Homo sapiens: one gene and its partners. Changing the gene in region 2 together with the main gene of any one other region gives a genetic interaction. Each region holds a gene or a part of one and is shown on either strand. Other genes may lie near its edges.

The links.
Region 1: of EP300 (region 2) and TRERF1, changing one enhances a phenotype caused by changing the other (phenotypic enhancement), as found in Homo sapiens cells (one study listed by BioGRID).
Region 3: changes in EP300 (region 2) and RICTOR together harm fitness less than expected from each alone (positive genetic interaction), as found in Homo sapiens cells (one large-scale study listed by BioGRID).
Region 4: changes in EP300 (region 2) and SAR1A together harm fitness less than expected from each alone (positive genetic interaction), as found in Homo sapiens cells (one large-scale study listed by BioGRID).
Region 5: of EP300 (region 2) and ETS1, changing one enhances a phenotype caused by changing the other (phenotypic enhancement), as found in Homo sapiens cells (one study listed by BioGRID).
Region 6: changes in EP300 (region 2) and SEC24A together harm fitness less than expected from each alone (positive genetic interaction), as found in Homo sapiens cells (one large-scale study listed by BioGRID).
Region 7: of EP300 (region 2) and FLII, changing one suppresses a phenotype caused by changing the other (phenotypic suppression), as found in Homo sapiens cells (one study listed by BioGRID).

What each region holds. Positions count from the first base shown.
Region 1 is NC_000006.12:42,252,927-42,256,426, forward strand, and holds part of TRERF1 (transcriptional-regulating factor 1), read right to left. Parts: intron 2,001-3,500; coding exon 1,925-2,000; intron 1-1,924.
Region 2 is NC_000022.11:41,095,592-41,099,091, reverse strand, and holds part of EP300 (histone acetyltransferase p300), read right to left. Parts: intron 1-3,500. UniProt on the Homo sapiens protein: Functions as a histone acetyltransferase and regulates transcription via chromatin remodeling. Acetylates all four core histones in nucleosomes. Histone acetylation gives an epigenetic tag for transcriptional activation.
Region 3 is NC_000005.10:38,945,400-38,948,899, forward strand, and holds part of RICTOR (rapamycin-insensitive companion of mTOR), read right to left. Parts: intron 2,043-3,500; coding exon 1,865-2,042; intron 1,154-1,864; coding exon 1,069-1,153; intron 326-1,068; coding exon 92-325; exon of another isoform or gene 1-91. UniProt on the Homo sapiens protein: Component of the mechanistic target of rapamycin complex 2 (mTORC2), which transduces signals from growth factors to pathways involved in proliferation, cytoskeletal organization, lipogenesis and anabolic output.
Region 4 is NC_000010.11:70,153,515-70,157,014, forward strand, and holds part of SAR1A (small COPII coat GTPase SAR1A), read right to left. Parts: intron 456-3,500; coding exon 324-455; intron 1-323. UniProt on the Homo sapiens protein: Small GTPase that cycles between an active GTP-bound and an inactive GDP-bound state and mainly functions in vesicle-mediated endoplasmic reticulum (ER) to Golgi transport.
Region 5 is NC_000011.10:128,479,559-128,483,058, forward strand, and holds part of ETS1 (protein C-ets-1), read right to left. Parts: intron 894-3,500; coding exon 633-893; intron 1-632. UniProt on the Homo sapiens protein: Transcription factor. Directly controls the expression of cytokine and chemokine genes in a wide variety of different cellular contexts. May control the differentiation, survival and proliferation of lymphoid cells.
Region 6 is NC_000005.10:134,655,285-134,658,784, reverse strand, and holds part of SEC24A (protein transport protein Sec24A), read right to left. Parts: intron 1-3,500. UniProt on the Homo sapiens protein: Component of the coat protein complex II (COPII) which promotes the formation of transport vesicles from the endoplasmic reticulum (ER).
Region 7 is NC_000017.11:18,248,739-18,252,238, forward strand, and holds part of FLII (protein flightless-1 homolog), read right to left. Parts: intron 3,409-3,500; coding exon 3,261-3,408; intron 3,079-3,260; coding exon 2,942-3,078; intron 2,740-2,941; coding exon 2,527-2,739; intron 2,280-2,526; coding exon 2,100-2,279; intron 671-2,099; coding exon 588-670; intron 464-587; coding exon 389-463; intron 146-388; coding exon 62-145; intron 1-61. UniProt on the Homo sapiens protein: Is a regulator of actin polymerization, required for proper myofibril organization and regulation of the length of sarcomeric thin filaments. It also plays a role in the assembly of cardiomyocyte cell adhesion complexes.

The DNA of each region.
Region 1 (3,500 bases), on a different chromosome or scaffold from region 2:
TCTATCTCTTTTGCCTCCAAGGATTGAAATGATTCCAGAAAACAGCAGAGTCCTTCCTGGTCTGCCTGCTGGGGAAGGGGACAGGGGACAGGCAAGGGATTAGCTAGAAACCCCTAACCTCAAGAGATCAATTAATTGTTGCAGAGTTTAGGGCCCTCTTGTTTCAAAGTTTTTGGTAATATTTTAGTGTTTTTATTTTGTTTTGACTGGGGTGTGTGGCGCTCCTAGTACATAGCTTTCTGACCTTTTTAATGTCATGATACACATAAAATGATACTTGTTTGGTACACTTGGAAGAACCAGAGGAGAGCTGTATCCCAGATGACGCTGCTCACAGCTAGAGCTAACCAGCCCAGAGGCTCTGGCGACCCTAGCCACTCTGAGGGCTGAGGGCAGCAGTTTCTCACAGCACATGGTTAGGAACCTCCTTTTAGCCAACCCACTGTCCCACCATCATGCAAAGAAGCTTGAGACAGCCTCCAGGAGGCTGGACAGCCTCTCAGGGTTCAATGAGCAGCAGATGATGCTGGAAATTAAGAGAGAGGACTGAGCTGTTTCCATGGCAGATTAGGGAGAACTCCTACATCTTTTTACCCACACTTGGGACAGACACCAAGCAGGAAATGATGGAGAAAATATTAAGAAGCTGGCTCCTTTAGGCCACCGGAGAAGTGATGAATTTCTTATTCCATGTGTCCACTCTGTATTGGCCTAGTTCCAGGAGTGACCTACAGGCAGACATCTTGGGCTTACTGTGCTTGGAAGAGGGGCTTTGAGGTCTGCCTTGTGATGACAGGCAGGAAGGCTCGTTCATGAAAGAGGAGGAGCACAGTAGGTGAGGCAAATGTTGGTGGAGAAAGCAAGCCAATATTTGTAAAGAAGCCCTCACTGGGCTGCCCGGACTAAAGATTGGAAAACGTATAGCTAGGTCCCCAAGCCCACATATTTGGCACCTGCCTAGGCAGGGTCTGCCCAGAGCACCAAAGAAACCCTCAAGTGATTAAAAATCAAGAGGCACTGAAAATTCAGCCCCCTCCAAAATAAAGAACCAACTTAGGTTTGTGGAGACCCTCAGAAGGAACAGTTAGTGCATGGAAATGAAAATGTTGACCTCAGTGTCACTGGTCACTTCTTAGGCTCTCCGACCTATTTCCTTCACTTTTCACAATTCTCAGTCCATTTAAATCTCATAGGTGTCTTCTACTTCCCTCTTATTGTGGTATTGTCATTAATTCACATACAAAACCCTGCGTGTATGAAGACTTTCCTGTCAGTGTGATCCATTATTTAATAACTGCCTCCTCCTCAGAGCCTCTGAGCTGCACGACGTAGGACTCTGCCCATGTCTGTCATAGTCACTGATGCATCTCAGTGTTTAGCAAGTCCCTAATACACAGTAAGTGTTCAAAAAATAATTGTTGGATACATGAGTAATAAATGCTACTAGGATGTGCCAGGCATTGGGCTACATATACCATCTCTAATCTCACAAAAACACTACGAGGGATGGAATACAAGTCTCATTTTACAGGTGAGAAAACCCAGGCTGCAGAAGACCATGGGACTTGGCCAAGGGGTGCGGTAGAATCTAAACCCATGGCTACTGATTCCAAAAGCAGGGGGCTGCTGATTGTACCTTCTGTGGCTCTCTCTGGTCTCATGCACTCGTCTCCTTGCCACACGTGCAGGCACTGTCCACTGTCACCCAGGTCTTGGCACACCCACAAGGGGCAGGAGCTTATGCCAACAGACAAATGCCAACAGAGCCAAAGCAACAGACATAGCTCTGCCCTAGGAGGCCTTGAGATCACAAGTGGTGATTAGGACAGAACCGGTGTTATCCATTGCTAGAAAGTGACACAACCGAACATGCAAGCAGCCCGTCGTCAGGAGGCAACAGGACACAGGGCTCCTGGCAACCTACCGGCATAGTGGTAATTTGCTAAAGGATGACATTTTAACCTGACAGGCTTCCGCAGTAGCAGCATTTCCAGAGCAACCTGCAGACCCAAAGGAGAGAAAAGGCAAGAGTCAGCAACTGGTCTGTGTGTCCTATGGAGATCATCTACCCAAAGGGGAAAAGCGGTTAGCACTGTGGAGGTCAGGGGCGGGGGCACTGGAAGGAAACCCAGAGGGAGACTCCCCTAACTAGGGTTTCATGTCTGTTCAGCAAATAAGACTCTCCTTCTAACACCCTCTCCATCCATGCCTGAAGCCAGTTGTTCATGTCACAGGAAAACAGAACGACCTGACTCTTCCTTGGTAAAATCCCACCCGCCCCAGAGATGAGTGGTGCCTCCTCTGACTGGAGGCTGAGTCTCTGGGCAAAGATTCCTAGGAAATGAGTGGGTGATCTGTAACTGTTTTATAGAAAAATCGTGTTTCATTACAGCTGAATAGAAACAGCTGCATCAGTAATAACTGTACTACACACACCATCCTTCCAGAGAGCCTAGCTAAATAAACTGTTTCAAATCAGCCTCGGTAGCTTTTTAAAAGATGCCGCAGGCAGAGTTGAACAGAAGATAGTTTCAGGGCAGAGCAGGGCCTAGAATCTTGCTACTCTAAGTGTGGTCCATAGAACAGGAGTACGTCCCTCACCTGGGAGCCGGTCAAAAAGGCAGAACCTGGGCCCTACTCCCAAGCCTCTGAATCAGAATCTGCATTTTTAACAAGATTTCCCAGGTGATGTGCACGCACATTGAAAGTCTGAGAAGTGCTACACTGCCACACTGATCTCAAAGGGTTAAGGACAGTTCTCCAGCATTCTAGGAAATACTTGAAGGGTATCATAGTATTGGGACATTTATTTTCACATTTTCATAAAATCAAAATGCAGGAAGCTAGATATACTACCATGTATTTATATAAAGGGGAAACAGAGGTTAGTGATTGAGTGATCTGGTCAGAAGTCCAGGATGAGGCTGGGTGCGGTGGTCCATGCCTGTAATCCCAGCACTTTGGGAGGCCGAGGTGGGAGGATCACCTGAGGTCAGGAGTTCGAGACCAGCCTGGCCAACATGATGAAACCCCATCTCTACTGAAAATACAAAAACTAGCCAGGCATGGTGGCATGCACCAGTAATTCCAGCTACTAGGAAGGCTGAGGAGGGAGAATCGCTTGAACCCAGGAGGCAGAGGTTGCGGTGAGCCGAGATCATGCCATTGCACTCCAGCCTGGGCGATAGAGTGAGACTCCATCTTAAAAAAAAAAAAAAAAAAAAAGGAAGTCCAGGTTGAGCAGGTCAACTGTTAGCTCTGATTTTGGGAAGACAGCACCAAGGCATGGGTTTGGGAACATCTGCAGAACTGTGTTAAAAGTGGAAGAATGGAACCAGTTGGTGAACAGTAAACACTTTATTTTGGTTAGAGGAGAAAAGAGTTCTATAAACATCAAACTTTGGCTGATTTCCATAGTAGGGAAGAAGAATCAGCAGAGTATGATAGGCTATTTTAGACCAACTTCTGCTTCAGTAAAGCCTTCTACCTCCATCACTGGA
Region 2 (3,500 bases):
CTTCGTTGCAAATCAAAAAAACAAAAACAACCCCCAAACCATCTACCACTGCTTTCCTTCTGATATATTTAGCAGTAAAGTTAAAAACAGTTAACAATGAACACATACTACACAGAAGCAAGCATAGTCCTAAGCATCTGATAAAGAGAATTCTCATTTATTCCTAACCACAATCCTGTAAGGTGGGTAAGTAAGGTGGATTCCTATAAGGTGCGCACCCACCTTACAGGGCTGTGGTTAGGAATAAATGTGAGGAGGTTGAGCCAGGTTAAGTATTTGGCCCAAAGTTCACAGTTAATAAATACAAGCCTGGGCTATGAACTCTAGCAGTCTGACTCCAATACTCATTCTCTTAGCTACTCTCTTACTCTTTTCAGTACTTTTAGTTTTACTCTCTCTCTCTCAACAAAATTACTTCTAGGGCCAGGTGCTATGGCTCACGCCTGTAATCCCAGCACTTTGGGAGGCTGAGGTGGGCGGATCACGAGGTCAGTGTATGGAGACCATCCTTGCTAACACGGTGAAACCCCGTCTCTACTAAAAATACAAAAAATTAGCCGGGTGTGGTGGCGGGCGCCTGTAGTCCCAGCTACTCGGGAGGCTGAGGCAGGAGAATGGCTTGAACCCGGGAGGCGGAGCTTGCAGTGACCCGAGATCGCGCCACTGCACTCCAGCCTGGGCGACAGAGCGAGACTCCGTCTCAAAAAAAACAATCACTTCTAATTGCTTTGGGACATTTATAAAAAAGAATCTAGATCTAAAAACAAATTATATCCAAATTGCTCAGAAGAGGCTTAACACCTCAATTATTATTTATCCTCTTAAGCGCTTCTGGGAAAGTGAGCAGTAATTTCCCATGAAAATTTCAAAATGAAACTACCGTCTATTAAGCGAAAAAAAATCACCTGCGAAGTTCAATGTTAAAAAATTTTTTAGCAGGGAGGGGAGAGGGATAGCATTAGGAGATATACCTAATGCTAAATGACGAGTTAATGGGTGCAGCACACCAACATGGCACATGTATACATATGTGACAAACCTGCACGTTGTGCACATGTATCCTAAAACTTAAAAGTATTAAAAAAAAAAAAAATTTTTAGCTGGGCGCGGTGGCTCACGCCTGTAATCCCAGCACTTTGGGAGGCAGAGATGGGAGGTTCACAAGGTCAGGAGATCGAGACCATCATGGCCAACATGGTGAAACCCCGTCTCTACTAAAAATACAAAAAATTAGCTGGGCATGGTGGCAGGCGCCTGTAGTCCCAGCTACAAAGCGAGACTCTGCCTCAAAAAAAAAAGAAAAATTTTAGACTTGGTATAATTGGTTTCATTTGCCCATTAATTTTACTGCTTGCCTCACTTAAAAAAATATTCAACTTTAGAAATCTTCAAAGAAGGAAACCCTAAAATCTGGACAAACATAAAACTAGCATCTTTTACTTTTCCATTAATTGCTGGGTATATGAATTGGCAGAATAACTCTCAAATTGTTTTTGTAAATATACCAGGAAAAAGTATTTTACACTCCCACTTGTATCTGCAACACTCTTCCTACTCTTTTTCTCTTTCCTATTTACCACTTAATGTCCCTACAAATACCACTTTGCATTAATTTTCAACTGTTTCCATTTTTTTGTTTTTATTAAATAAAGAAGAGAGAGAAAAGCAAAGAAAAACACAAAATAATGCCAAAAGGCCACCAAGGCAGAAACCCTTTCCTCCCTCCTCCCTATTATCCATTCACTGGACATGCCAATACAATTCCAACCTCTGCTATAGAAGATGAACTCCTGCTGGAATAAGACCCCCATATTGTAACGCATTCAAGATTTACAACTTAAAAGTCACTTTATCTCACTATCAACCAGAGACAACCTTCTTGAAGTCCTATAAATGAACTTACAAGGCCTTGAGAATAATTGCCAGAAAAACTTAAAGCACTTTAGTAAAATGTTTTGCAATTTAATACTGAGGAGAGAAATGCCTCACTAAATCAGGAGCTATATCTGCAAGACTCCAGAAGCAAACTCTTATGTAAACATTCAAGCCAAAATAAAATAAAACATAGCATATCACAAGTTACAGAGCTGGAAAATAAATGGTCTTGATCAAAATGTTTTGGTTAGGATGACGAACCACTAACACAATGGCATTTTAAGAAAATAGAGCTGACAGCCGGGCATGGTGGCTCACGCCTGTATTCCCAGCACTTTGGGAGGCTGAGGCGGGTGGATCACCTGAGGTCAGGAGTTCGAGACCAGCCTGGCCAAAATGGTGAAATACTGTCTCCACTAAAAAATACAAAACTTAGCTGGGCATGGTTGTGGACACCTGCAATCCCAGCTACTGAGGAGGGTGAAGCAGAGAATCGCTTGAACCTGGGAGGTTGAGATTGCAGTGAGCCAAGATCGAGCTACTGCACTCCAGCCTGGGCAACGAGAGCAAACCTCTGTCTCAAAAAAAAAAAAAAAAAAAAAAAGTAGAGCTGACATTTTAAAAAGCCTTACCACTTCTCCACTGTGTACATTAATCTACTGGTCAAAAAGCAGGTATACTTTACACACTATCTGCCCTGTGTCTTTGAAATGGGGGAAAAACTCAAAAAACAAAAAAGCACAAAACCCAGGGCCACAAAACTGTACCAAGACCAGAAGGATCTTTACCCTACTTAATTATATGCCAGATCCTAAAATCCTATCTTTCCAGGTGCTTTTTAAGTGCATACGGCATTAAGCGTTTACCAAGCAGTGACAAAACGTGTTCACTGAGTAATGAAGACAACAGATGACCCTCATCATTTCCATCACTCAAGATGATCAGAAACAGCTCCAAAAGATATTTCCAGGATTTGCCTAACATTAACTTTTCCAGTCTTTTGGTCATTTTTACAAAAAAAGTTTACAAGTGGCTTTCATAATCTTTTTTTTTTGGAGGGAGAGGGAGAACAAAATGTCATTTCTCAAATGATTTGTTTTACCCTAACCATACCAAATGAAATAAAAATTTCAATGGATCAAATGCAAATACTGAAACAGGAACATAAAGGTGTGAAGGCTACAAATAAGTCTTCTCTTCCCCATCCCAACACGTAAAAGTTGAGTTTAACCTAAGTTATTTGAATCAACCTGGAAATTTTTTAGGAGAATATCTGAGTATTAAACAGCAATTCAGAGGTTGAGATTTAAGTAATAATTTGATTTGTAACACTTTAGCATGTCATCCCATTGGATTCCAGTTTTCTTTCCTTTAAAGCTGACATTAGAACGCTCTTGGTGGATATATTTACATCACGAAATTTGCAAGCCTAAATCACTTTTTTTAAAAAAGTTTTAGGTGCTAGAATTTCGGGCTTATTTCAACCAGTTCTAGACAAAAACCATAATATCAAGAAATAATTTTCTTTCACATTTATAAAATACCCAAGTGACAACTCAAAAATCAAAAGTTACAAGTTTGAAACTTAAAAGTTTTAAGAGGTGATGTGCCTCCAATAAAAGTTA
Region 3 (3,500 bases), on a different chromosome or scaffold from region 2:
GAATTAGAATACCAAAAAGAAATTTGGAAAAGTAAACCAGAGAACTTTAGTCATCACTAGGTTTTTCTGAAGGTGGGACGTGATCACTTACCTGAATGACTACATATTGCACTCAGTTGGTTGCTGGGCTGGAAACCCAGAATTTCAATACAGACACAATAAAGGCAGTTATCATCTGTATGTTCCTGTAGTCCAGTGTCTTCTGTACTTTCTAAAAACAGAGAGGCATCTGAATGGATTGAATTCATTATTTCCGTAAGACTCATCTGCTGTCGTAGCAAGTGAAAAGAATTTTTTACAAGACCTCCAGTTCCAGATGGAAGACCTGTGCATAAGTAAATATAAAACATAATCCAATAAAGATAATACTTTTCAAGGTACCTTAAATTATGTGAAATTTTAAAGAAAGCTTAAGCACATTTTATGACTCAAAATCTAACTGGAAAGAAAAAAAGAATAATTTGCTTTAAGTTATAAAAATAAGGAAAGCCAGCAGATGTTTATTATTTTAATATATAGTGTTTTAAATACAAAATGGAAAATTGAGATTATATAATACATCATTTCAATTATCGTCAATATTTGCCTAAAGATATGTAATAATTCTAAGTATAAAGAGGCATTTGTTTAAAAAGTCATTAAGAATATAAAGCTATAAAACCTGTGGCTTATATTTACATATTAAAATATAACAGTTCAAAACAAAGACCGTGTATTTTATAAGTACATTTCTTTCTCCTTACTCTAAACAAACAGCTATTTCCTGGATCTATGAGGATTAGTGTTATACATTGTTCATGTGCTACTTTTAAAAAACAGAAACAACTAATTTGGTTTCTATTTCCTTGAAAGGTTGAGTACTTCACTGAAAACACTGTTAAGTCCCTCACACATACACAAAAATGTGGTTTAATTTTAAGCTGACTTTAACAATTGTTTTGGTATAATTTTAAAGTTGATCCAAAAGTGAGTCTTCCTAAATTTTTAGTGTTATCCTACTAGAAAGAACTAAGAGTTTTCTTTTTAATATAAAGAGGCATCTCACAAGTACAATGCACAATGCATTACCTCCTGCATCATGGGCAAATGCTCTTGCACCTCGATCATCATGTGGTGGTATGTTTTTTGTCTGAAAATAGGGAATATCCTTTACCTAAAAAAAGATATAAACCATGGTAAGTCCTGCTATAAAAATAAGCCCACTTTATGAAAATTAGCAAAATTAAACAAAATAAAATTAAAATAGAATTACCATAGCATATGAACCTATAATCAAGTTTACTGAAGGTTCAACTACCAAAACTTAACAAAATAACCCAAAAAGTCCTTATTATATTATTAGTGACTAAATGGACATTAATTATTTTAGCGTTTATCTAAAATGTCTTTCAACTTCTAAGAAAATGTGTTCTTTAGTACTATATACCATCTAGAGATCTGTGGGTATCTCCTGGGATTAGGGTCACCTTATATTACTGGGTACCACATATGGCTGGCTACCTTTTATGGGATAAATAGGAATGAGGATTTAAAAATGAGGTATAAGTTAAATGTGACTAAAAAACAAGTTAGAAATTTCATAAATTTCTACAGAGAATATATGGATAAAGAAATCAAATGAGATACTGATTTAATATGGGAAGAGAGGGAAGGATAATGTTCTAAGGACTAAATAAAAGAGTACAGAGTAGTTGAAAAGGGCAAAATAATTTTAATCTTAAAGTTTCTTTAAACAAAACGGTCTTAAAAATCATGCTGCCCCAAACTGGTGCCCACCCTAAATTATGATTTCTAGTAAGCAGTTACAGCATATGAAAAAATAGGAAACCAACTCATAGGAAAACAATAAAATGTATGATAATACCTGGAATATATCATTTATATCCACCGGGAGAGCAAGACCAATGTAATCATCTGAACCCCCATATGTGGCACTGGACACCATGGACCGCACTGAGGAAGATCGTTGCAGGGTATTTTGATTAATAGGACTCAATAAATCTTCTTTATCTAATGATGCATAACTTAAGGCTTTCATGAACCTATAAAACCATAAAGAAACCACTTGCATTAGTTTCTTGATCTGTAATTTTAATCATATGAAGAAATAACATATATTCCTACCTTCATAAAAGACAAGTAGCTAGTCATGTATTAAGCAGTGTCATCTTGTTTACTGGCAACACATAAACACTTTAAAATATTAGCTGTTATAGACCGCTATGTAAAAGGTCACCAGTAATGTTGACTGTTACCAAAAACAACTGTTATGGTCTCTCAGGTAAAGGTGAAAAGGTGGGCAATTAGAATAACTTTCAACATCTAGAAGTAAAAAAAGAAACTGACCTCAGTAGTCAGAGCATGGTCCAAGGACTATCTTCATAATCACTTGAGACTACTAGATTTGGCATTTATGTAACTAAGGATATGTGTATCAACTCTATTTAATATTATATTTATAAAAAATGAGATCAATTACATATCATTATTTGTGTGATAATTACCTTAATGCCTTCATTATCAACATAAGATTTATGTAGCACACAAGACAGACACAAGAGCAAAATGGTCATTTATGACGAGATATCCTTGTAAAAAGCACTGATATTTCCACAATGTACTGATATTTCCACAATGTACTCCTTACTACTAGAGATTCCATAACAAATATGATACACTGATATTTCCATAAGATACATGTTTCTCATACAGATTCTTACTTATGCAACAGACATGCTAAAATATTTACTTGGTATCTGCTGTATATATACAAGGCACTATGCAAGGTTCCACATTTATATACATTTATATGAAGATATTTTTGTTTGGAAAACCAAGTCTTTAAAATGTACGAATGCAGCCTAATATTAAATCAAATAATTATTTTGTAAAACACACAAAAGAAATGCTTTCTAAATAGTAGCTATTAACATAGCAAAAACCATGCTCCTAATTTCCACCCAAAAAACACTCTTTCAAACTGTAATCTGTTACATTTCTTTGGTTCCCATAAAACTCTTCAAGGATTACTGGAGTGGGAGGAAAACAATTATTGGATTATTCCCCTTCCCAATTCCTATTTCAACCAGTATAGGTCCCTTTCTATCTATTCTACCTATTGGGTTTCCACAGAAATCTTTATGTGAAAAAATAATTTCTCTGCTTAAAAAACAACAATACAAAAGTTTACAACCACTGATCTAGTGCAATCTCCACCAGATGAGGTAACTGAGGCTTAGGAATGTTCAAAATTCATGAACTTTACTGCATAGATTTGTAACAGTGAGCTGTTGAGAACTTTCCCTGGCTTTGTCCTGGACAAGGTTGCCAAAGCTAGTGAGTTCCAGATAGATGAGACATTGCTGCATAATTTCTTAAATCCTGTAAGGGTACACAATTCATTGTCTGCTACCAAGAAACCCTCTATTAAATGTGTTAAGCATTATTGAAACAAAACTGCTTAATGTTATTAAGAATAATGTAAGGGCTAGATGGATTAC
Region 4 (3,500 bases), on a different chromosome or scaffold from region 2:
AAAAAAATTATTTTCTGGCTAAAAAGGGCTATTTCAAAAGCAATTTCTCAGAATCAAATTTGAAAGATAATCATAAACTCTTAGAAGAGTAAATCTGCCTTTTCTACCATTTCCTTCTTCCTCAAATACCTGATGAATGAATCCCATTTAAAACGTTAAAAAGAACACACTCCTGCCTCTAGTGAGCTTACAAAATACTCACAGTAAAACTAATCCTAAGCCTGTTTAAGCCTTTAAAAGAAAAGGGTAATCTAGATAGCGAAACATCATGTTTTAAAAACTGTTAATGTCCTTTATATGTAACCCAAATATTTTTCTCTTACCTTTCCTGTGGTCTGTCCATAAAGCCCAAATATCTCACGGAGTTTTTCTTCACTGATTGCATCTGTTCTGTCAATTTTGTTACCCAAGATAAGGATTGGCACATTGGATATTGTTTCATCAGTCATTAAAGCCTAAAGATTGAAAAAAAAGAAAAAAAGAAAAAAAAGAATTAAGTGAGGAATCTACAAAAGCCCACCAGATAATGAAAATTCTGACTTCCACTAATCTTTTAAGGCATTAATGTAAAGTGAAAATCTGATCAACTTTATACCTGAGTGATTAAAGATTCACCTTGACATTACATAACACCCATGACATTAAGTAAAAATCTCCTAAGTGCCTCGAAACAGTTGCAACTTTATTCTATTTATTTACAAGGCAGCAGAACTGCCCCAATATTAACTTTTGAGCTAATCTGCTCAGCCACAAACTATCCTCAGGATGTCCCTCAGCAAAGTCCTATAAGAATGAATGCTCTGGCTACAGAGCCTCAAAGATGACTACAGGAATTCCCCAAGTATTCACCAAGTCCCATTGTGTGCGAAGAACTCTCTCAGGCATTGAGAGGAATAAAGTAGGAAGGGTAACTATCTCAGGCACTGAGGATACAAAAGGAAGCACATTCCTGTCCTCAAAAAAATCCTCACTCTATGTTCACATTATGTTTTTTTTCTTTTTTCTTAATCTCAGCTCACTGCAACCTGTGACTTCCAGGTTCAAGCGATTCTCCCACCTCAGCCTCCTGAGTAGCTGGGACTACAGGCATGTGCTACCACGCCTGGCTAATTTTTGTATTTTTTTAGTAGAGATGGAGTTTTACCATGTTGGCCAGGCTGGTCTCAAACTCCTGCCCCTCAAGTAATCTGCCAACCTCAGCATCCCAAAATGCTGGAATTACAGGCATGAGCCACCACGCCCAGCCACATTTATGTTAACAAAGCCAAGTAAGAACACAATATAGTGGATAAGTGTCACAATGAATGGGAACTGAATATTAACATTAAGACAAGTTCAGGGAAATAAAATGGCAATTTTGGGCTTGAGCAAAGTCTTAGAAAAGATCTGGAACCTAAACAGGGCTCTAAAGGAAGGGCAGGGTTTGGATAGGTGTAAAGGAGAAGTAAGAACATAAACAACGGCTTTGCATTAGGACAATAATTCAGGAAGCCACACAGTACTGCATGGCTGGATTCAAGCATTTAGATAGACATGCAGCGACAAAGTAAATGGATGAGAAGAGATGACTCACATTAGGGGCCAGTGTGAGAAGTGAGCTGCAATATATCCTAAAAGACCACAAATCCAGAAGTTAGTGAATAAAATCTTATTTTTCAGTATAATGAATTCACAAATAGTATCTATCTGTGGTGTTCATGTAAGAGATCATGATCTAGCTTAAGGTAGAGCATTCAATGAATACTGCAGGAGGCATTTTGAAGAAAGAATTGAAGAGACCAATGTCTAAATGATTAAAAAAAAAATTTAAAAAAGACAAATGAGTCAAAACTGCCACTGATTTCAAGCCTGGGAATCTAGTTGTCACCAATAGGAAAGCTAGCGGGGAAAGCAGAGTTAAAGAGATAAAGAGGAATGTACTTTGACCATCTGGAATTCCAGGAAATGTTACACAAAATTAGAATAAGAATGTCCTTCATTCATTAAGCAACAACAAAGTACCTAATGTGTCTAATGCTTTGCTAGGTGCAGGGGTTTTGCAAAGAAATAAGACACAGTCCCTATCATGTTAGTTCATAGTCTGATGAGAGAGAACTATAAAAAAATCAATAAAGACAACAGACATTGGTAAGGTGGGAGTCTAACACAGTCTCAGAGGTCAAGGGAGGCTTACCAGAAGCAGTCATATCTGAACTCTGAGGTCTCTTATAGAACATTTTAAAATTTGCCGACAAAGCGAGGGGTTGAGGAGAGGTACAGGTGAAAAAGCCAGGCAGTAGCTACTTGTGCATATTCAAGGATGGCTAAGTTGTTTGTTTGGAATATAGTTCAAGGTAGGCAGTAAAAAGAAACAGAGGGAGGATCATGAATGATCCTATGTGCTATGCAAAAGATTTATAGATTTTATCCTGAAAATGATAGAGAACTATCAAAGGATATTAAGTAGGGCAATTAAGTCTGAGAAAGTTCCTTCTAGCATTATGGTGCATATCAGGGTCATGGTAGGATTTATATTAATTCACAGATTTGTGGACTGCATGTCCAGGTAGGTGGTGGGTGGGAAAGACAAATAGTTCCATTCTAGGAAAACAGAATCAGTAGTAGGAGTTGTCGAGAGTAGGCAGGATTAGGTATGAGATTAGAGCTCAGGAGAGGTCTAGAGGAGAGAAATGCATTTGAGAGTCACTGACATGTAGGTGCCAAATGAAGGGAGTAGATGGGACCAGCCTAGGAGAAAGTACTCTGGAGAACACCAACATTTAAGGACTAACCAGAAGAACTAGTGCTTCTCAAAGAGACAGAAGTATCAGCCAGAGAGGTAGCTCCAAAATCAAGAGTGAAAAGAGGAGTTTAAACAAAGAGAATGGAGACCATGCATGGTGGCTCATGCCTGTAATCCCAGCACCTCATGAGGCCGAGGCAGAGGATCACCTGAAGCCAGGAGACTGAGACAAGCCTGGGCAACATAATGAGACCCTGTCTCTACAAAAACACTTTTTTAAAAAAAATTAGCTGGGTGTGGTGGTGTATGCCTGTAGTCCTAGCTACTTGGGAGGCTGAGGCAGGAATATCGCTTGAGCCCAGAAGTCTGGAGGTTACAGTGAGCCGTGATTGCACCATTGGACTCCAGCCTGGGCCACAGAGGAAGATTCTGTTTAAAAAAAAAAAAAAAAAGCAAGGTAAAGACTGCGTGGCAGGCAATTCTACATGAGGCTGGAGCTATAGATGTGAGAAACATACTTAGAAATAAATTCAAGACAGGTTCAAGTTGCCAGAAACAAGAATGCAAGGAGTTATAAATCAAAGAGAAAGAAGAGATATAGGGTAAAGGAGTAGGGATAACAAAGCCAATAGTATAGAAACCATCAAGCCATGAGAAAATGCAATGTTGACAAAGGAGAAAACTTGAAGTGAGTCCTTAATAGTATCAAAGGATGTATGCAACCAAAACTGAAGACTGAGAACAGACCATGAAGGTCTGGCAAGTCATTCAGTGGGAG
Region 5 (3,500 bases), on a different chromosome or scaffold from region 2:
ATCTTCCTTTCTCTATGGCCTTTCTTCACCCATCACTATCATAACTATAGCTTTCGCTCCTGGAAGAAAACTGATAATAAAGCCGAGTAAGAGAAGGGGCATTCTCTATAGGCCAGGATGGATCTGGACAGGGCGTAGTGCCACTGAGGATACTGTTCCCACATTTGAACAGCTGGCCTAAGGAGAACCGTGCTGCAGAAGAGTCCAGTGCGGAGGCCATTCAGTTGTGCCTTTGAGAGATGCTGCTGCTGATTTTGTATTTAGAAAGACCTCCCAAGAGCAGACCAGGAAAAATCCCCTGATGCCAGGCCACTAGATAGAGTTTCCAGGAACACCAGATCATTATAGTTCCCTTCCCCCAGACATGGAAAAACACCCAAAATGTAAGTTTCCTACCATTCTTGGAAATGATCCCTTTGAAGAGAATGATACTATTTGCTTCCAAAAATCAATGGCTATTCACAAGCAGAGTGGCTGGAGAGAGACTAAAGAATTCTTAGAGAGACTTCTCCCCCGTGCCCTGCAAAAGGGAGTCTCTCGTCGTCTCTGGTCAGAGGTGCAGAGTGCCTTCCAGGACCCCACCCACAGAAACGTGCAGATGGAGTTGGCCTAAGCAGCGGGAGGGCGCCTACCTGTGTAGCCAGCTAGGGCAGCAGCAGGAATGACAGGCTTGTCCTTATTGAGGTCAGCACGGTCCCGCACATAGTCCTTGAAGGTGCCCTTGGGCTTGTGGTTGGGCAGGGCAGCCGGATAGTCCTCTGAGTCGAAGCTGTCATAGGAGGGAACACGCTGCAGGCTGTTGAAAGATGACTGGCTGCTCCAGGACTGGGTGAGGCGATCACAACTATCGTAGCTCTCTATGCTTTCAAAAGAGTCCTGGCCCCCGAGTTTACCTGGAGGTAAAGGAGGAGGTAGGAAGAGGACAGGGGGAGGAGGGAGTGGGAAAAAAAAAAAACTGTAAAAACCCTCTTATGGAGGACAGATTGCTAATCAGATCTGCAGGAAGGACGGAAGAAGGGAGAGGCGAGTGGGAACAGAAGCTTCAGGGGTCATGGGTTTACTCTGAGGAAAGGGGCTGCACTAGGCCACCATCCGAGGGTCCACGGCCACTCTGCTGCCTGGTTTGAGAACTCCAAGTACAGAGATTCAGAGTCAAACGTTGCTCACATCTGTCGGAGTAGCGTTTGGGTCCTCAAGAGTTCTAAAGCCAGAAATCTAGAAGCTGAGGATCACACATGTTATGATATGATTTCTGGCTGATGTCGTAGGCCCAATGAATAAATGAAGAAATCAGAGCAATGTCAGGCTGAATTCCCCACTCCAGCTCAAGCCAATGAGATGACTTCAAAAGGCCCAGTTTGGAAAACATTTTGGTCATAAGAAAAAAGAATCCCATTAGACTAAGAGCAGATTAGCCTGTTTTGACCTTGGAACTAAGTGCTATTTTTTAGCATTTTTCCCAAATACTATTTTAATATGAAATACATGTACTGACCCTATGCCTTTTCAAATAGAGTAAGATGGTGTAAGATGCTTTTCCCAAGAGATTTTTTAAAATCACACACACTATCACTCTTCTAAACAGAAAACCATATTCTTTATCCTCTCCAAGTAAAATTATGTACTTGAAATTTAAACTTCATTGGAAAAGTGTAGGCAATATTTAAAAGGTTTATTAAAGAGTTAAGGTCCACAGCAGTGTCAGAAATCCTTTACTGTGTGAGTTGCTTAAGGCATTCTTAACTGACCACAAGATCATGCAAGTTCATTAATTTCCCAAACCAGGTTATAAACAGCTGCTATGATTGCACAATAGCTCCTGGAGAAATTTCCATTGGCAAAAATGCCACTAAAAAGGAGGCTAGCAAAAAAAAAAAAAAAATAGTTTTGGAGGAAAACAAATGAATCTAAGAGCGAAAAAGGCTCGCAGGAATGGTTTTTATATGCAACTTTCAGATACTTTTCAAGTAACCTAAGTTAAATCATAGGAGACTAGATGGTCACCTCAATTCAGCACAGGCCAAAAGGCAAAGGGATGTGACAAATGTTTACGGAGAAATATCCGTAAGTCAACTCTTAATTGTTCAGGGGTGGTTGATCTATAAATTTCAAATCCCAGAATAAGGCTGACTTATACAACTTCATATTAGTGTGCCTCCAGTGTATTTTTCCCTCCATGACAGCGGAGATTGGTTAAAACAATAAACATCAAACATGAACAGATGCCCAAACCTAAATTAAATATATAGGAAAATATGTTGCTCCCAACATTGTTTAAAGATCCGGATAAAATGTATTCGGTTGAGTGTGTACTTTTTGTAAAATCCACTGCTGTGGGTTTTCTCTACATCCTGACCCCCTCTGGAACTGCTTTAAACAGAAAGGTGGTGTCATCCGTTTCATCTCATTCCTTCCTCCACTCATCCATTCAGAGGAGGGTAATCTCTGGAAAGCAAACTGAAGAGCTTCATGGAGTTATCAGCCCTGCCCACCCAGTCCACTAGCAAAAGGGCACCTCTTCATTCTTACTAAAAATGAATATATATTTCTTTATAATTCTTAAAAATTCTTTCCCATTTACCCACCAGAAAAGTCATCTTTTTCACCTTTTTAGAGATCATTTAATTTTCTTTCAAGAAATTCACACTAAATGATTTAAGAAAACAGCCTACAACCAGAATGTCAAAGCCTTGTTTTAGCAGAACAGGAAATTCTGTGGCGTCTCATAAAAAGGTATTTGTTCATACCAGCTACTGATCTTCATGGTCACTTATTTTCTCTTTGAGACAAACATACCAAAAGCCTAAGAAGGAGAATTTATATTTTCATCAACACCGCACCAAGTCGATAGTATTTATGCTAAAGTCTCTCTGAAATGATTCCATTTCTATCAGCCAATTTTATACTTGGAGAAAAAGGACATCAGAATTTTCACAAGCAAGATAGTAGAGTTTCCAAGGAGTCCCACTAAGCAAGGGGACTAAACCAAGCCAGAACCAGTCTCTGGCAACCCCCCAAACATGAGGCAAATGCAACCCTGTTGAGAGTTGTGGTTTACAGCGGTAGGCAGCTTTCATTTTAGCTCGATTTCACAACCCTGGTGCTGGGAACCTTCATTTACGGGTATTTTCTCCAAAAATGGGTAGAATCCAACTGGATTAGATACTCAGTTATGCTGCTGCGCTCATGTAGGGAAACCTGTGTTCTCTAAACTGTCCACTAGCCAGCCTTTCTGAGAAGGGCCTCGGCGAGCTCCTTCCAAAGCTATCTGAGTCCACCAAACAGACCTCAGAGCACTCAAAACAGAAGATGCGGCAGCACCCAGCCACCCACTGAGTAGACTCGTACAAAGACAGTCCTTAGGGCCCAAATAAGTGGGGCATAGAAGCACTCTGTACGCTGTAATGCAGCCCGTGAATACTGTACTATGGTTAGTATAAATAACAATCAGCTAACAGTAATGCTTTCGGTCTAGACCAATCACAGCATCTCAGAATCAA
Region 6 (3,500 bases), on a different chromosome or scaffold from region 2:
TATCCTTCCTATAAGTCGTCTGTTTTCCAGTAAATGTCCTCTCCCCCACCCCATTCTTCCCCTATTAAAATCGTGTAGAGGTTGGGCATGGTGGCTCATGCCTGTAATCCCATCACACTGGGAGGCCAAAGCAGAACTACTTGAGCTCAGGAGTAGGAGACCAGCCTGGGCAACACAGCGAGACTCCATTTCCACACAAAAAAATTAAAAATTAAAAAATTAGCCAGGAGTTGTGGCACATGCCTGTAGATCTAGCTTCTCAGGAGGCTGAGGCAAGAGGACTGCTTGAGCCCAGGAGTTTGACTTCAGTGAGCTATAATTAGGCATTCCACCCTGGGCTACAGAGTGAGAACGTGTCTCAAAAACAAAAAGGAAAAAGTGAGCATGATAGTCACCCAAGTAATGTTCCAACATATTCAAAATTAAAACAATCAAATCAACTGTGGTTTCAAACAAAATGTAGCATATTGTTTAATGTTTTAAAATTGAATTATATTGCTTTTGATTTTTTTTTGAGACAGAGTCTCGCTCTGTTGCCCAAGCTAAAGTGCAGTGGTGCGATCTCGGCTCACTGCAACCTCCGCCTCCTGGGTTCAGGCGATTCTCCTGCCTCATTCAGCCTCTCGAGTAGCTAGGATTACAGGTGTGCACCACCACGCTGGCTAATTTTGTATTTTTAGTAGAGACGGGATTTCACCATGTTGGCCAGGCTGTTCTTGAACTTCTGACCTCAAGTGATCTGGCCACCTCAGCCTCCCAAAGTGCTGGGATTACAGGCGTGAGCCACCATGCCCAGCCATATGTTGATATTTTTAATGTTTGGTTTTACAATAGTACAATAGCTATAACCCTATGAAGTTTACATCTAGTTTTGTGTTTGCATATACACATTTAATAAAAATAATTTTTGCCAGGCATGTTGGCTTGATCTTGTAATCCGAGCACTTTGAAAAGCCAAGGTGGGAGCACGGCTTGACCTCAGGAGTTCAAGAATAACCTGGGTAATATAGTGAGACCTCGTCTCTACAAAAAAATAAATAATTAGCCAGTTGTGGTGGCACGTGCCTATATTCCCAGCTACTTGGGAGGCTGAGGCGGGAGGATCACTTGAACCCAAGAGATCAAGCCTGCAGTGGGCTGTGATCATGCCCCTGCACTCTAGCCTGGGCAACAGAGTGAGAACCTGTGTCAGAAGTAAAATAAATAAATAAATAATTTAACATTGGGACAGCAGAGAAATATTTAGTATCTATACATTACTCAAATTTTTAAAAACTGATTTGAGGAAACAGCATTCATGGGATTTTATGTGGAATTGAATATGGGTGATGAAGAGAGGAAAAAATCTAGGATGACTCCTAGGTTTCTGACCTGAGCAACCTGGTGGATGGCCGTGTTTATTCATTTGAACAGAAAGAGAAAAGAATAGAAATGTAGGCCAGGCACGGTGGCTCATGCCTGCAATCCCAGCACTTTAGAAAGTCAAGGTGGGAGGATCACTTGAGGCCAGGAGTTTGAGACCAGCCTGGGCAATAGCAAGTCCCTATCTCTACAAAATATAAGTTTTGGTTGTGTGTGTGTGTGTGTGTGTGTGTGTGTGTGCGTTTTTCAGAAATGAGGTCTCGCTCTGCCACCCAGGCTGAAGTGTCACAGCTCACCGCAGCCTCGACCTCCCAAGCTCAAGCGATCCTCCCACCTCCCCTCTTGAGTAGCTGGGCCTACAGGCGTGCACCATTATGCCTGGCTAATTTTTAAATTTTTTTGTAGAGATGGGGTCTCCCTAAGTTGTCCAGGCTGGTCTCGAACTCCTGGGCTCAAGGGATCTTCTTGACTCGACCTCCCAAAGTACTAAGATTACAAGCATGAGCCACTCCACCCACTTGATCAAGGATCAAGGATTACTTGAGCCCAGGAGTTCAAGGCTGCAGTGAGCTATCATTGCATCATTGCATTCCGGCCAGGGCGACAGAATGAGAGCTGTCTTTAAAAAAAAAAAAAAAAAAAAAGTCGGATGCAGTGGCTCATGCCTGTAATCCCAACACTTTGGGAGGCCGAGGTGGGTGGATCACCTGAAGTCAGAAGTTCGAGACCAGCCTGACCAACACGGTGAAACCCCGTCTCTACTAAAATACAAAAATTAGCCGGGCATGGTGGCACACGCCTATAGTCCCAGCTACTCAGAGGCTGAGGCAGGAGAATTGCTTGAACCTGGGAGGCGGAGGTTGCAATGAGCGGATATCGTGCCACTGCACTCCAGCCTGGTTGACAGAGCAAGACTCTGTCTCAAAAAAACAAAGGTGGGGAATGGCAAAGGGAAGAGAGATCGAAGAGTTATTTTAAACACACTAATTTTCAGGTGCCACCAAGAAATCTAAGTGGAGATGTCCAGTATAAAGATATTTATCTGCGCTGGGCGCGGTGGCTCAGGCCTGTAATCCCAGCACTTTGGGAGGTCAAGGCGGGCAGATCATGAGGTCAGGAGAGCAACACCATCCTAAGACGGTGAAACCCCATCTCTTCTAAAAATACAAAAAATTTGCCGGGTGTGGTGGCACATGCCGGTGGTCCCAGCTACTCCGGAGGCTGAGAAAGGAGAATCGCTTGAACCCAGGAGGCAAAGGTTGCAGTGAGCCAAGATCGTGCCACCTCACTCCAGCCTGGGCAACAGAGCAAGACTCTGTCTTAAAAAAAAAAAAAAAAAGATATTTAGCTGCAGCCAAAGTGACAGATTTCACCTTAAGATATAATTATGGGAGTCACTGATCTATGCATAAGATTTAAAACCATGGGAATTAAAGACACCCAGGGAGTATATAAGAGTAAGAAAAATAGGTCACCTTGAAGAACACCAATATTTAAGGAGGAGAGAGAAAAAAACAATCAGAAATGGAAGAAATATTGAGAATACTGCTGTTGAGAAATAGCAACCAAAAAAAAGAAAGAAAACCATAACTACCCTTCTGGTGATATCCTAGAAACCAAAGAAAGCAATTGTTGTAAAAACAAAATAACAGCCAAAGGTATCAAATGCAGCTCGGAAAATGAGAACTGAAAAATATTTTTCTATTTAATAACCAGGAAGCCATTTGTGGCCTTATTTATTTATTTATTTATTTTGAGATGAATTCTTGCTCTGTCGCCCAGGCTGCAGTGCAATGTCATGATCTCGGCTCACTGCAACCTCCACCTCTCGGGTTCAAGTGATTCTCCTGCTGAGAATCACTCAGGAGGCTGAGGCCTCCTGAGTAGCTGGGATTACAGGCGCACGCCACCACACCCGGCTAATTTTTGTATTTTTAGTAGAGACAAGGTTTCACCATGTTGGCCAGGCTGGTCTTGAACTCCGGACCTTGTGATCCACCCGCCTTGACCTCCCAAAGTGCTGGGATTACAGGCATGAGCCACCACGCCCAGCCTTGTGGCCTTATTAAGGACAATTTTGGGATGTGTGGGTAAAGAAGCTAAATTAGAAAGTTAGAGGCAAGAATGAATGCAGATGA
Region 7 (3,500 bases), on a different chromosome or scaffold from region 2:
AGTCATCAGCGAGGCTCACACCCCTTTCCTTCACACAAAAGACCCCACGGTGTCCTTGTACCTGGCCTTGGTGGTGCTGCTCAGTGTGGCCTGGGCCCCCCGCCATACGTAGATGTCTAGCCCTCGGTCCAGCAGGAAAACAAACCTGGACAAGAAGGGGCAGGAAGGAGCTGTGATGGTGCATGGGGCAATGGTCACCCCATGCTCCTGACCCCACCAAAAAAAATCCCTCACTATGGGGTTTCTGGGTAAGCCCCAGGGACCCCCCGCCAAGCTCGTGGGCAGGAATTGCTAGAGGGCCTCCTCTTCTAAGAGGCCCACACCTGCCCCCACTGGTGGGGAGGAGGCTGAGGATGAAGCACCCCCACCTCACATTGTTGGGGCTCACCTTGGGTCCAGAGAGGTCCCCTTGAGGGGCACAGGCTCCAACTTGATGTTCTTTTTCCCATACACACGATACATCCTGGGCGCAGGGCAAGAGTGGCTCAGTGTAGGCACCAAGGGCCTAACTTAGCCCCAACACCCTCCCCTCCACCCCTTGCCAGCAGACTCCAGGTCCATACCCCCCACTGCCCACACACCCTCACCTGGTGACATAGTGTGTGTCTTCCACAGTGTAGAAGCCACTGGCTGTTCCACCCTCAATGTAGGAGATGTCGTTGTCAAACACCTGTGTGTGTGAGGGTGTGGTTCTTCATCACTGAGCTGCCCCCTCCCCCACCAACCACTGCCCCTCAGGTGGGGGTACAGAGTTGCATACAGGTGAATTGAGTGCTACAAATCTATGATGCCTGTAATCCCAGCACTTCAGGAGTCTGAGGTGGGTGGATCACCTGAGGTCAGGAGTTGGAGACCAGCCTGACCAACATGGAGAAACCCTGTCTCTACTAAAAATACATAAATTAGCCAGGCGTGGTGGTGCATGCCTGTAATCCCAGCTACTCGGGAGGCTGAGGCAGGAGAATTGTTTGAACCTGGGAGGCGGAGGTTGCAGTGAGCTGAGATTGTGCCATTGTACTCCAGCCTGGGCAACAACAGCAAAACTCTGTCTTAAAACAAACAAACAAACAAACAAACAACAACAAAAAAAACAGATCTGGCTGGGCACGGTGGCTCATGCCTGTAATCTTAGTACTTTGGGAGGCCAAGGCGGGTGGATCACCTAAGGTCAGGAGTTCGAGACCAGCCTGGCCAACATGGCAAAACCCCATCACTACTAAAAAAATACAAAAATTAGCTAGGCGTGGTAGCACATGCCTGTAATCCCAGCTACTTGGGAGGCTGAGGCAGGAGAATCGCTTGAACCCTGGGGGCGGAGGTTGCAGTGAGCCAAGATTGTGCCACTGCACTCCAGCCTGGGCAACAAAGCGAGAGTCTGTCTAAAATAAAACATACACATCTGTGTCTATAAACATACACACGTCGGGGTGTTGGGATGTATGAAAAATATGGACACGTTCACCCACGTTTGTAAAGATGCCAGCAGCATGTTTAGATGCACGCATATCAGGGTACACAAGCAAGTGGGTTCATGGAAGAGTGGAAACCTGGGTGAATGTGGGTAAAAAAAACTCGGGGCGGGTGGGGTGTGTGCATAAACTCCACGTGTGTGTACATGCGAACATATGTCTAGGTGTAACCAGCTGGCGGCTAACACTGCTCAGTAATTTATTCAAGACTGGACTCTGGTCCCGCCCTTGGCCCCACCTCCTTGGCATCCAGGTGTGTCCTTGCCTCCTAATAACAGGTTTTGGCCCTGCCTTCTCACTGCTCTTGGCAACACCCCTTCCACCCTACTCTCAGCTCCCCTGTGTCAGCCCACTGGTCTAGCTCCCATGCCCAGCCTGTACCCTTATCCTTGCCCGGCTGAATTCTGCCCCGCGTTCCAGAACTCTCCTTTGCTGACCCAGGCTTTGGCCACCTTAGACCTCACCCTGCGGTCTGCCTTAGGTCCCGCACAGTATCGTTGATCCACCCCCTTTAACCCCAGCTCCCTGCCTGCCCACCTGTTCTGCCTACCTGCCTTGGGCCCACTGCCCCTGCACCAGAGTTCCCTGGGAACCCCACTCTGCCCACCCCCAATTTTAACGGGCTGGCACCTGCAGGAACTCCTCGCTCTCATCGCCCATCTCCTCCCGGACAGTGCGGCACTCAGCACCCAGGTAGTTGCGCAAGTTGACAGCGTGGATGGCAGAGCAAGCTTTCTTGTCGAGTGTGGCCTCCCCGCCAATCCAGTAGTAGATCTCCCAGTTGAGGGAGCCGCTGTCATCCAGAAAGGTCTGGAAGCCAAGGCACCGGCCACATCAGCTTTCATCCTGGTCTTCCGGCCACCCCGGAGACGCCACTCTGAACAGCACAGGCTTCCCAGCCCCAGGGGCTTTGTACTGCCCCTGTGCCTGGACCACCTCCTGCAGCCTGCCCACCTCCCACCTGGCCTCCCTGAACAAAACTCTGGAGTTGGGGACTGAGCCATCTTAGAGGAAGGTACTGGGCCACATGGCCCCTAACAGCATGCCCAGCCCTCACCTTGAGCACAATGTAGCAGTCAGCCTCGTAGAACTTGCCGTGGAAGGCTTCCTCCACCAGCACAGGCACGAAGTTCTCTATCTGCCAGATGGTCAGTCCGGGCAGCTGGCCCACGTCCTCCGTGAAGAACTCGGAGTAGTCAAGGCGGGGCTTCTCCAGGCCCTGGTCCCAACGCCGCACCTTCCCGCTGGGGGCCCGGGCATCTGCGCTCTCCTGGGGGCAGAGTCACAGAGCACGGCTTGACTCTGTGAAGCCACTCAGGCCAGTCTTTACTTGCTACCCACACCTCAGGGCCTTTGCACAGCTGTTCTTTCTGCCCAGCACCCCCCGTCCCTCTTGGCCAGGGTCAAGGCCAGGGTCGGCCTTCAGCAGAAGCTAAGGCTCCCTGCCTTGTCCCAACCCTGGCCTGGCTCACCTCCTGCTTTTTGTTCTTCTCCTGGGCAACATCTGACATGCCCTTCAGCACCTGCTTGGCCTGGTCATCCTGGGCTGAATCCTTGCGCCTCCGCAGTCGCATCTTGCGAGCCATAGGGTCCTTGGGCCCACTCCCTGCTTAGGGGAGGGGCAAACAGCTGAGCCCTCACTGGGCCTGCTGCCCCCTTGGGCATGCGACCAACCAGGGGCCAACTCCACCCACCAGGGTCCAGAAAGCTGTATGCCACCCAATTTACAGATGTGTCATTTGAGGCCTGGAGAGGAGCCCCCGTTCCCAGGCCAGACCTTTCCCCACTCACCAGCTGCAGCTGCAGCCACGGTAGCAGGAGAGGCACCCGCTAGCCGCAGCTGGTTCTGCAGCGAGAAGTCGATGTTGTACCACTCAGCGGCACGGTCTGCGGGCTTGGGCGGCATGACCAGGTTGGGGTTCTCCCGCACATCCAGGACCTGCCCCATAGGGTGAGCAGAGCCGGCACTGAGCCTGGGTCCTACCTCCCAGACACACCAATCCAGTTTCTTGCTCTTGTCTGCAGCCGCCA